3 linked regions of the Homo sapiens genome follow. The protein of the gene in region 3 purifies or fractionates together with the protein of the main gene of each other region. This does not show direct contact. Each region holds a gene or a part of one and is shown on either strand. Other genes may lie near its edges. The genes, in order: RNASEH1, DAPP1 and SERPINF2.

What was found.
Region 1: the proteins of SERPINF2 (region 3) and RNASEH1 purify together in Homo sapiens (affinity purification with mass spectrometry; one large-scale study listed by BioGRID and IntAct). This does not show direct contact.
Region 2: the proteins of SERPINF2 (region 3) and DAPP1 purify together in Homo sapiens (affinity purification with mass spectrometry; one large-scale study listed by BioGRID and IntAct). This does not show direct contact.

Annotation. Positions count from the first base shown.
Region 1 is NC_000002.12:3,544,693-3,548,337, forward strand, and holds part of RNASEH1 (ribonuclease H1 isoform 1 precursor), read right to left. Parts: intron 3,364-3,645; coding exon 3,239-3,363; intron 1,200-3,238; coding exon of another isoform or gene 1,180-1,199; coding exon 1,093-1,179; 3' UTR 1-1,092. UniProt on the Homo sapiens protein: Endonuclease that specifically degrades the RNA of RNA-DNA hybrids.
Region 2 is NC_000004.12:99,847,697-99,851,341, reverse strand, and holds part of DAPP1 (dual adapter for phosphotyrosine and 3-phosphotyrosine and 3-phosphoinositide), read right to left. Parts: intron 1-3,645. UniProt on the Homo sapiens protein: May act as a B-cell-associated adapter that regulates B-cell antigen receptor (BCR)-signaling downstream of PI3K.
Region 3 is NC_000017.11:1,741,464-1,745,737, forward strand, and holds the start of SERPINF2 (alpha-2-antiplasmin isoform a precursor), read left to right. Parts: upstream 1-1,407; 5' UTR 1,408-1,445; intron 1,446-1,535; exon of another isoform or gene 1,536-1,605; coding exon of another isoform or gene 1,606-1,613; intron 1,614-2,870; exon of another isoform or gene 2,871-3,083; coding exon of another isoform or gene 3,084-3,127; intron 3,128-3,528; coding exon of another isoform or gene 3,529-3,532; coding exon 3,533-3,595; intron 3,596-3,711; coding exon 3,712-3,750; intron 3,751-3,869; coding exon 3,870-3,932; coding exon of another isoform or gene 3,933-3,942; intron 3,943-4,244; coding exon 4,245-4,274.

The sequences.
Region 1 (3,645 bases), on a different chromosome or scaffold from region 3:
ATACATTTGTTTTGTGTCACTTCCTGTATGTTTTTATAATAAAAAGGTTTAAAACTAAATAAATAATCATGTCAAACTTTTACTACTTTTTTTTTTTTTTGAGACAGAGTCTCACTCTGTTGCCCAGGATGGAGTGCAGTGGTGCAATCTTGGCTCACTGCAACCTCTGCCGCCTGGGTTCAAGTGATTCTTGTGCCTCAGCCTCCCAAGTAGCTGGGACTACAAGCCCGTGCCACCACACCTGGATAATTTTTGTAATTTTAGTAGAGACAGGGTTTCGTCATGTTGGCCAAGCTGGTCTCAAACTCCTGACCTCAAGTGATCTGCCCGCCTTGGCCTCCCAAAGTGCTAGGATTACAGAAGTGAGCCACTGTGCCCAGCCGGTGTCTTACTTTTTTTTTTTTTTTTTTAATTTGCACAGTTTTTAACGAAAGAGCCAAATAAATTTTTGAAAGTTTATTTATGCTTCTTGGTCTTTATGAGTCGCAGCTGTTCCTAGAGAATGGCCTAGCAGCCAGGGTCGCCGCAGGCAGGCTTTGCCCTATACTAACTGCCCAGCAAGCAGGCACATGGGGCTGAGACCCAGCACACATCCTGCCCACTGAGCTGTCCGCCCAGGCCCTGGGCAGCATGTTCCTTTAATGTACCCATGGGCACAAGTCACCTATACAAGCAGGAGACTCAAACCTGTCAACTGGACGGTAAATGGATGCTTTCAGAATACTTCCAGACTTCTGAGTTGCATCTTTTAACCAATGGTTTTTTGATTTCTTATCAAAATATAAGCCACAGCATTTTAGGCCATTTGCCTTGCTTGCCTGCAATAAAACAAGCAAGGACAGTATTGAACCCAGTAAACATAATGTGGAAATCTCACATAATTCTCCAATCTCAAAGATGTTCAATTTATTATATACTTAACCATTTTTTATAAACACATGTCACAGAAGGCCACTGTGCCTGATTCCGTGTGAAAGACGCATCTGCCCATCACTGCAATGGTCCTACCTGCAGGCTATTTTCCACACCAGTAAGTACAGGCAGCAAGACAGCCGCTGGCTCAAGTTCTCCCAAGGACTAAAGTCACATGGCTCAGTCTTCCGATTGTTTAGCTCCTTCTCTGGCTAATCTGTCAGCTTCTTCATTGCCTATAAATCCCGAATGACCAGGAACATGCATCTGTTAAGATAAATGTTTTCCTTTTATTTTTACTCATCTTTACATAAGCAACACATGACTATATTGTCATCATAAAAAACCATTCAGAACAGACTGCACAGCATAAGCTCAACTTCAACGCTCCTCTCCCCAGACATGATCCTCAACAGCACGCTGTCCATTCTTCATGCGTTTACGCAATGGATGTGATTTACGAACATTCCATTTTGTTTTTTCACAAATTGGATTTTACCGTTCATGTTGCTATTTCCTCCCCACTTATCAATGGGACTTGATAAGCTTTCCAGGCAAAACACATGTATGTACAGATGGGTGGACGGATATGTATGCAACACACACACACGCTTCCCTTGCAGTGCTGTCAGAAATAATGTACTTATTTAACCACTGTTTACATTTATGTTGCCAAAGCAAATTTACACATCAGGCTACCAAACTATTATCAGTGGTTCCAGGAAGGCAGAACAAGGCAGGGTTGAGACAGTGGCTGCAGTGTAATTTGTTCTCTATTGCTTGAAAAAAACTTTTTAATAAACATGATCTATGATTTTAAAAAGTGCTTCCATCTTGGAATAAAAGTTCTATTACCAAGGCTTTAATCATACAACCTTACTATTGTTTGAAACAAAATACACTGATAGTTTTATTTAACATTATGATGCATTCCAAAGAAATGAACAGGGTGACATACAGCTGTCATAGTAATGCCATGTGCCCAGGTTGGGTGTTACTTCGTGTTCTTAACAAAATATAAGGATTGTAGAACATCCCTCAAACCACACTGCCTGTGTATTCTATGCCTAGTGACACTCTCACTAGAATTGTATTACTTGTGGTTGCAGCGAGCCGAGATTGCGCCACTGCACTCCAGCCTGGGCAACAGTGCGAGACTCCATCTCAAAACAATAAAAAAAAGTTTGACATGATTATTGATTTAGTTGTAAACCTTTTTGTCATAAAACAAAAACATATAGGAAGTGACACAAAACAAATGTAATCCCAGCACTTTGAGAGGCCAAGGCAGGTGGAATGTTTGAGATCAAGAGTTCAAGACCAGCCTGGGTAACATGACAAAACTCCATCGCTACTAAAAATACAAAAATTAGCCAGGCGTGGTGGCATATGCCTGTAATCCCAGATACTTGGGAGGCTGAGGCACGAGAATCACTTGAACCCAGAAGGCAGAGGTTGCAATGAGATCACGCCATAGCCTGGGGTGACAGAGTGAGACCTGTCTCAAAAACCAAACCAAAAAACTGTATTACTTGTATGATAAGGAAAATAATCAAATTTGTGTATGTGGGTGGGTTTGTTTTGTTTTTCTGAGACAGGGTCTCACTCTGTCGCCCAGGCTAGAGTACAGTGGTACAATCTTGGCTCACTGCAACCTCGACCTCCCCAGCTCAAGTCATCCTCCCACCTCAGTGTCCTGAGTAACTAGACTACAGGCATGTGCCACTACCCCTGGCTAATTTTTTATTTTTTCGAGAAACAGAGTCTCCCCATGTTATCCAGGCTGGTCTCGAACTTCTTGGCTTAAGTAGTCAGGCCATTTGGGCCTCCTAAAGTGCTGGGTTACAGATGTGAACCACTGAGCCCAGGCTCACATATTTTTTTTTTTTTTTTGAGACGGGGTCTTGGAGTCTCATATCGTTGCTCAGGCTGGAGTGCAGTGGCGCGATCTCAGCTCACTGCAACTTCCGCCTCCTGGGTTCAAGTGATTCTCCTGCCTCAGCCTCCTGAGTAGCTGGGACTACAGGCACACACCACCATGCCCGGCTAATTTTTGTATTTTTTAATAAAGATGGGGTTTCACCATACTGGCCAGGCTGGTCTTGAACTCCTGACCTCGTGATCCACCCACCTCAGCCTCCCAAAGTGCTGGGATTATAGGCGTGAGCCACTACGCCCAGCCTCAAATACGTTGTAATATACATTATGATATTAATATCATGGAAATTGTTATGTCATTAAACCACTTACATAAACCATTAATCTCTAGTAAACTTAGCTTATTTGGTCATAATGGCCATAGGACATGAACATTTAAGATACTCACCCACTGAATGTCCATCCCCTGGGTAAGCCTCTCCAGTGCCACAAAGTCCTCTTTGTTGATCACCTCTTTCCCTGCACTTGTCTTCCACCCATTTTTCTTCCAACCTTGAACCCAGTTAGTTATACCTACAAAAATGCACGATCACTGGTGAGTCAATCTTGAGTGTCCTGCCTTTTTCACCTCCTTAGTCTTACCTCTTATAATTGATCCCACTTGTATTCTGAGTCACCATCCTTGACTCTTCACTTCCTTAGCTGGCCTTAGTTGCTTTGGCCTTTGGCACAGCCTGAAATACCCTCCTCTCTTCCCTTTCCCCTAACTTGTATTCTACCTACAGCTGTCAGCTTAAGATGTCATTTCTCCCAGGAGCCTTCCCCAGCCTCGTAAGCATCCCCTACATGCTCCTA
Region 2 (3,645 bases), on a different chromosome or scaffold from region 3:
GTCTCTCATTGGCATTGCAGCATTGGGATCACAATGAAAAACAGATTTTGCCATTATCAGAACCGTCCCATTCTTGCACATTGTGCTCTCTTTTGTCAATGTGATCTTCCCATAAGAACAGATCCAGTCATATGAGGAGAAGGGGCCGGCTACAGTTTTACAGTCAGAATGAAAGCAGCAGTACCTATATCAAGAGTAGCTGCTGTGCAGGCTCAGGGGCTCTGTGAACACAGTGCTCACATTGTAGATGCATGGTAAATTCAGCGCTGGCTCCCAACCCTAAGAAACACTCCCAGTGATGTGCTTCATAGTCACTCTGGACCCTTGGAAAGAGCACTGGATGCACAGGCAGAGGAACAGGGTTCAATTGTCACTACCGCCATTCAGTACTTATCGGCCTTGGACAACCATTACAAGCTTCTGCTCCTTACTAGTGAGAATAATTATGCTTCCTTCAGAAGGCACCAAATAAATGTTTGTGGGAGAATGATAACATATTAGATATTATTATTCTTTGACAGAATATTTTTAAATCCTTAAATAAAATTTGAATGATTGCATCTTTGGGGACATGGATTTTGAAATCTTAAAAAAGACCTAGACGCAACATTCTGCTAGGAATAAAAATGGTGGTAGTCTAGTAATCACTACTTGTGATTAACTATAGTTAAATTGGTGCCTCTCAAACACTTTCACCTTACAGAAGAGGAGAGGGGAACTGAAGCCTAGGGATCAAAGCAGCTCCCAAATTAGATACATTTTGAACTCTTATACTTTATCTTCAAAGTTGATGCTTAATTTTCATTCTACTTCATATATTTAATACTTAATATGAAAATAATGCTTTAAATGACACTCCAGAAAGATGTACTTAGTTGATACGACCAGGCACACACTTCACATAATAATACCTGTGTTAATTTTTTTTTTTTGAGGCGGAGTCTTGCTCTGTCACCCAGGCTGGAGTGCAATGTCACGATCTCAGCTCACTGCAACGTCTGCCTCCCAGGTTCAAGCGATTCTCCTGCCTCTGCCTCCCAAGTAGCTGGGAATACAGGCATCCACCACCACACCGGGCCAATTTTCGTATTTTCAGTAGAGACGGGGTTTCGTCATGTTGGCCAGACTGGTCTCGAACTCGTGACCTCAGGTGATCCACCCGCCTCGGCCTCCCAAAGTGTTGGGATTACAGGCGTGAGCCACTGTGCCTGGCCTAATTTTTTATTGCTATTGTAGCAAATTGCCACAAACATAACAGCTTAAAACAACTCAGATTTATCATCTTACAATTCTGGAAGTCAGAAGTTCGAAATGGGTCTCACTAGTCTAAAACTGGCAAGGCTGCTTTCCTAGTGGAGGCTCTAGGGAGGATTCATTCCTTTGCATTTTCCAGCTTTCAGAGGTGCCCTCATGTCTTGACTTGTGGCCATTTTCCTCTGTCTTCAAAGCCAGTAACAGCCAGTCAGATCCTTCTCCTGCTGCCATCTTTCTGGTTCTCTCCCTTCTGGCTCCCTACTACTTATGAGGACCCTGTCAATTACAGTGGTCTTACTTAGACCATCTAGGATAATCTCCCCACCCCAAAGTTATTTGATCAGCTGCCTTAATTCCATCTGCAAACTTAATTCCCTCTTGCCATGTAACAATATATTCACAGGTCCAGGGAGACATGTGGACGTCCTGTGGGGGCATTATCCTCCTACCACAGTATCAGTCCCTGGAGGAGAAATAGCCACCGGGGCCAGTTGCGCTGCAGGGTAAGGATCTCTGGGCTGGGCTGCTGCCTGAGCCTGCAGTGCTGTCACCTCTTGGTATTAGACAGCCACTGCCTTTCCAACGTGTGCATTTCCAACCTCTGTGAGCCTCTTCAGCGCACCTATCAGTCAAATTTATCTTTGTATCCCTACCACTTGATAGAGTTTCTGACATAATGAAGGCAGATGAGTGAATGAATTAATGAATGAATGCTACAGTAATGCAGGCTTGAACCAAGAAAGAACCTGGGATGAACCAGCCTCCCAGGTCCACAATTCTCCAGGCCTGAGGCAAGAAAGGACAATAACCGCAGGCATAACTTTTCAAATCTCTGTTGGAGGAACCCAAATTCTATTTTGAAAACCTCCTCTAAAGTTTAATTCAACAAAAGTAAAACAAAGGAAAATGGCATTGAGTCAACCAAGAGAGTAAAACTGACTGTAGATTGATTTTAACTAGTAACCCCACAAATGAGGCTAAACTAAATTGTGAGATGAAGATGACAAAGTACTTATAAAACGGCAACTTATACTGATAAAAATCTGGTGTCCTAAAAGACAGTTCTCCTTAGATGACTATTCTTGCCCAAGGAAGAGCCAATATACAGACTTCTTGGCATGGCTGTGAGGCTTAATGATTTCCCCTTCTGCAGAGATTGTACCTCCCAGTATACAGAGATAGGTTCCCTATAACCATGTTATACCTCCAGACCTGGCCCGGCCCTCGAATACCTGACCTGGTCACACTAATTGGATTCACTTCTTGGGGATCCACTTAATTGCTTCTCTAGAGAGAAGGTCCACCAACTCAATTTCTGAACTACATGAAGTAGACTATTGTTTCCTGCCTTTGACATGAAACCTGGTTTCAGAAAGGCTGAGCGGAGGTACACTTCTGAGACGATCAGAGATGAATCAAGACAGACACATCAATTGACTGAAAGCCTCAGACTTGCCATGATTACTAAGCAGATTCCTTGTTGTCTCTTGGTTGTTCAACTTGCCCTTAAATTCTGGGAGGGTATATTGTTAATATCCTTTTAAAAAATTCTGCTCCTGGGCAGGGCGCGGTGGCCCATGCCTGTAATCCCAGCACTTTGGGAGGCCGAGGCATACGGATCACAAGGTCAGGAGATGGAGACCATCCTGGCTAACACGGTGAAACCCCGTCTTTACTAAAAAAAATACAAAAATTAGCCAGGCGTGGTGGCATGCGTCTGTAGTCCCAGCTACTTGGGAGGCTGAAGCAGGAGAATCCCTTTAACCCGGGAGGCGGAGGTTGCAGTGAGCCGAGATCGTGCCACTGCACTCCAGCCTGGGCAACAGAGTGAGACCCCATCACAAAAAAAAAAAAAAATTCTGCTCCTGTTCCCTGTTCTTGTACCCTACTCACTTAAAAACAAAATCAAAAACAAGACCAAAAAAACCCAGCTAGCCAGAGCTGGTTTCTGTCATTTCCAATCAAAAGAAACTTATCAGCCGGGCGCGGTGGCTCATGCCTGTAATCCCAGCACTTTTGGAGGCCGAGGGGGCGGATCATGAGGTCAGGAGATCAAGACCATCCTGGCCAACATGATGAAACCCCGTCTCTACTACAAATACAAAAATTAGCCGGGCATGGTGGCGCATGCCTGTAATCCCAGCTACTCGGGAGGCTGAGACAGGAGAATCGCTTGAACCAGGGAGTCAGAGGTTGCAGTGAGCCGAGATGGCGCCACTGTACTCCAGCCTGGCAACAGAGTGAGACTCTGTCTCAAAACAAACAAACAAACAAACAAACAAACAAACTTATCTACTGTCGCTACCACAGACTCTTAATACTTTGCCTCCAAGGTCCAAGTTAGTGCCTCAGCTCGGGAAGAAAGGGACCCTGGGTTACTGAGATTCAGAC
Region 3 (4,274 bases):
GTGGGAAGGAGCCTGATGCAGGGAGTGAGGAGCCGGACAGTGAGGGTGGGAAGGAGCCTGATGCAGGGAGTGAGGAGCTGGACAGTGAGGATGGGAAGGAGCCTGATGCAGGGAGTGAGGAGCAGGACAGTGAGGGTGGGAAGTGGCCTGATGCAGGGAGTGAGGCGCAGGACAGTGAGGGTGGGAAGGAGCCTGATGCAGGGAGTGAGGAGCAGGACAGTGAGGGTGGGAGGCGGCCTGATGCAGGGAGTGAGGAGCCGGACAGTGAGGGTGGGAGGCGGCCTGATGCAGGGAGTGAGGAGCAGGACAGTGAGGGTGGGAAGTGGCCCGATGCAGGGAGTGAGGCGCAGGACAGTGAGGGTGGGAAGGAGCCTGATGCAGGGAGTGAGGAGCCGGACAGTGAGGGTGGGAAGGAGCCTGATGCAGGGAGTGAGGAGCCGGACAGTGAGGGTGGGAAGGAGCCTGATGCAGGGAGTGAGGAGCAGGTGTGAGGGCGGGAAGCGGCCTGATGCAGGGAGTGAGGAGCAGGACAGTGAGGGTGGGAAGGGGCCTGATACAGGGAGTGAGGAGCAGGACAGTGAGGGTGGGAAGGAGCCTGATGCAGGGAGTGAGGAGCCGGACAGTGAGGGTGGGAAGCAGCCTGATCTTTGCACGGGCTGCCAGGCTTCTGGTTCATACAGCCCCAGGTCAGTTTCCAGAACCCTCGCTCTTGGGTAGGGGAAAGAGACATTGCTCTGGAGTGGCAGGACGGTGGGAGAAGTTGAGTCCCTCTCATTTCTCCTCCCTCACCCCCTGCCTTCCATCCCAGTCTGAAGGCAGCCAACCTGATCCTGGGCTTGGAAGGTTGGGGGTGGGCTTCCTATCCTGGGCTCTCTGCATAGGCTCTTGTGGCTTCCCCTTTCCTCCCCTCAGGAGCGGGAGGCAGCTCTCTGGGAGAAGAAAGGACATTGGGAGTGAGAATCTGGATGTGCCTCAGCCCAGCTCTGTGTCCTTGGGCAGGTCACATGGCCTCTCTGAGCCTGGCTGAACCAGGGATAATCCACACCTCGTGGGGTCTCTGGAAGGCTTAACACAGTGCTAGGTTCCTGTGCTTTCTGGATCCGCCCTCTTGGCTAGCCAGATCCAGTCTCTTCAACTCTCTCCTCCTGAACTTTCTCTTTCCAGGCTCGGGGGGGGGGACCCAAATATAGGGGGTTCTGCGTGGCTGCCTCAGGGTTAGATGCCCTGGTGGGAAAGGGGCTTCTGGCTTCAAGATCAATGTTTAACTGGATGTGCAAGTCAATATTTACCAGAAGAGAAAGCAATCTGAACAGGGGTTGGCTGAGAGTAAAGGTCCTGGTGGGAGGGGAGGGGTGGGCTGGGCCAGCTGGAGCCTGGGCAGAGAGTGAGGAGCACCCAAGTGGGGCCAGAGGAACGTTGTGTGTGGCAGCAAGGAGCCCGCAGAGGTATGAGGGGAGGGGCTGCTCGGCCTGCTCCTTGGGTAGGAGAGGAGGAGGGAGCTGCCTCCCTGGCTGAGGGGTCTGGGATTTATTCAGGAGGCCTGTCACTCCCCAGCCTCTTCTGGGACTTGAAAAACTGGAGCCTGTTCTTGGCAAGAAGATTCTAATGCCCAGGTCGGAGTCGGGGCCCTGGCCAAGGGCTCTTGTGTGGGATGGGGGTGGGGCCGGGGGGACCAAAGGATCCTCCAGAAGGGTTGGCCCCAAGATGGGGGTGGGCTGGAGGTAGCTGAGACCTGCTCTGACTTATCCTCCTGAGACCAACACCTGCCCTTCCCAGAGCCAGCCTGGAGCAGAGGCCTGTGATGCTCCTAAGTGCAGAGGTGGCTCTGGCCAGAGTCATTCACTGGGCTCTGCTGCTGGGTCAAAAGGCAGCTCTCTGGCTGCCTTGCCACCCATGGTGAGACCTCAGGGCCTCACAGGTATGTCCAGCCTTGTGGGCAAGACCTGACCAGCCTGAGAAAGACGGGTTGGGGCCAGGCGTGGTGGCTCATGCCTGTCATCCCAGCACTTTGGGAGGCTGAGGCAGGTGGATCACCTGAGGTCAGGAGTTCGAGACCAGCCTGACCAACATGGAGAAACCCTGTCTCTACTAAAAATACAAAATTAGCCAGGCATGGTGGCACATGCCTGTAATCCCAGCTACTCGGGAGGCTGAGGCAGGAGAATCGCTTTAACCCAGGAGGTGGAGGTTGCAGTGAGCCGAGATCGTGCCATTGCACTCCAGCCTGCATGATAAGAATGAAACTCCATCTCAAAAAAAAAAAAAAAAAAAAAAAAGACAGGCTAAATGGATGCAGCAGGCTGGGTAGGAGCTCTGTGTTGGAGCTCTGCGGTGGAGGCTTCAGGGCAGGCTTCCCAGAAGAGGTGGCCTTGAGCCAAGCTGACCCCAGCCATCGGGGGAGTGCCAAGCATTGTACTCAGGGTTTACAAAGATGGTCTTATTTATTTTTTTGAGACAGAGTCTTGCTCTGTCGCCCAGGCTGGAGTGCAGTGGCGTGATCTCGGCTCACTGCAACCTCCGCCTCCCGGGTTCAAGCAGTTCTCTGCCTCAGCCTCCCGAGTAGCTGGGATTACAGGGGCCCACCACCACGCCTGGCTAATTTTGTATTTTCAGTAGAGATGGGGTTTTACCATGTTGGCCAGGCTGGTCTTGAACTCCCGACCTCAGGTGATCCACCTGCCCCTGGCCTCCCAAAGTGCTGGGATTACAGGCTTGAGCCACCGTGCCTGGCCACAAAGATGGTCTTTTGCCGGGTGCAGTGGCTCATGCCTGTAATCCCAGTACTTTGGGAGGCCGAGGCAGGAGGATCACCTGAGGTCGGGAGTTTAAGACCAGCCTGACTAACACAGAGAAACCCCGTTTCTACTAAGAAATACAGAATTAGCCAGGCGTGGTGGTGCATGCCTGTAATCCCAGCTATTCGGGAGGCTGAAGCAGGAGAATCGCTTGAACCTGGGAGGTGGAGGTTGCGGTGAGCCGAGATCCTGCCACTGCACTCCAGCCTGGTCAACGAGAGCGAAACTCCGTCTCAAAAAATAAACAACAAAAAATCCCAAAAAGACGGTCTTATTTTGGTCCTCACCATGCATGTGAGAAGAGTGAGGGACTTGTGCCACCGTTTTACAAGGTAAGGCCAAGCCTGGTGGAGTTACGGGAAATGCCGAGGTCCTTTGGCAAGAGGTAGCCTGGATTCAGACACAGATCTGATTCACAGCGCAGGGCCTTGTAGAATGAGAACGTTTTTGATTTGGTATCTCCCTCCTATTCACCAAAACACCCTCAGTGCATGAAATGCATGAAATATGAAACACCAGAAACTAAAAAGGGGGAGAAGCCAGGGCGGATGTCCCAGCTGCAGGAGTGGGAGCCGCTGCTCGTGTGTTTGGGGTCTGTTCTGATTCTGGAGCCTGCTTCTTCCCCTTGGCAATCATGACCCAGGACTTGGCGTTATCTGTGATCGCGTGGGTAGGATTCCCTGGCGGGCGTGGGGATGTGAGATGGGAACAGAGCTTTCTGTCCCTGCCACAGGAACATGGCGCTGCTCTGGGGGCTCCTGGTGCTCAGCTGGTCCTGCCTGCAAGGCCCCTGCTCCGTGGTGAGGCTGGGCTGAAGTCAAGGTGGGGTGGGGTGGAGGGGGAAGAAGAGGGGCGTTGGCATGGAGGGAGGGCTTGGCTCCGAGGGGACCTCCTATCCTCATCCCTTTCTCCACAGTTCTCCCCTGTGAGCGCCATGGAGCCCTTGGGCCGGCAGGTACTGGGGAGTGAGGAGCCTGTGATGGGGGGAAGGTCCCGGGGGTCTCACTGGTGGCTTGGGCAGGGTGGGGGGCCTGTGGGAAGGGTCGGTCTCCATCTGCTTGCTCCTTTCCGCAGCTAACTAGCGGGCCGAACCAGGAGCAGGTGTCCCCACTTACCCTCCTCAAGTTGGGCAACCAGGTACAACCAGGTGGGGCTGGGGAAGAGTGGGCGGGGCTAGAGGGAGGAGGGCCCATCGGCAGGGGTCGGGGGGTGGGGGCGCGTGCTGAGGCTGAGGCTCTGGAGTCCAGAGGCCAGAAGGGAGAGAGGGTGGGGAGGACCGAAGGTGGGCGCCAGGCCCCAGAATGCCAGTGCCCTCCGTCTGACGCTCCCTCTTCCCTGGGGCTGGGACAAGGCCCTGCTGTCCTCAGGCACAGGGGCTGTGACAAGGCCTTCAACACAGAACCTGGAGCTGACCCCTTGACCTCCCTGACCCCTGATCTGTCCCTGCAGGAGCCTGGTGGCCAGACTGCCCTGAAGAGT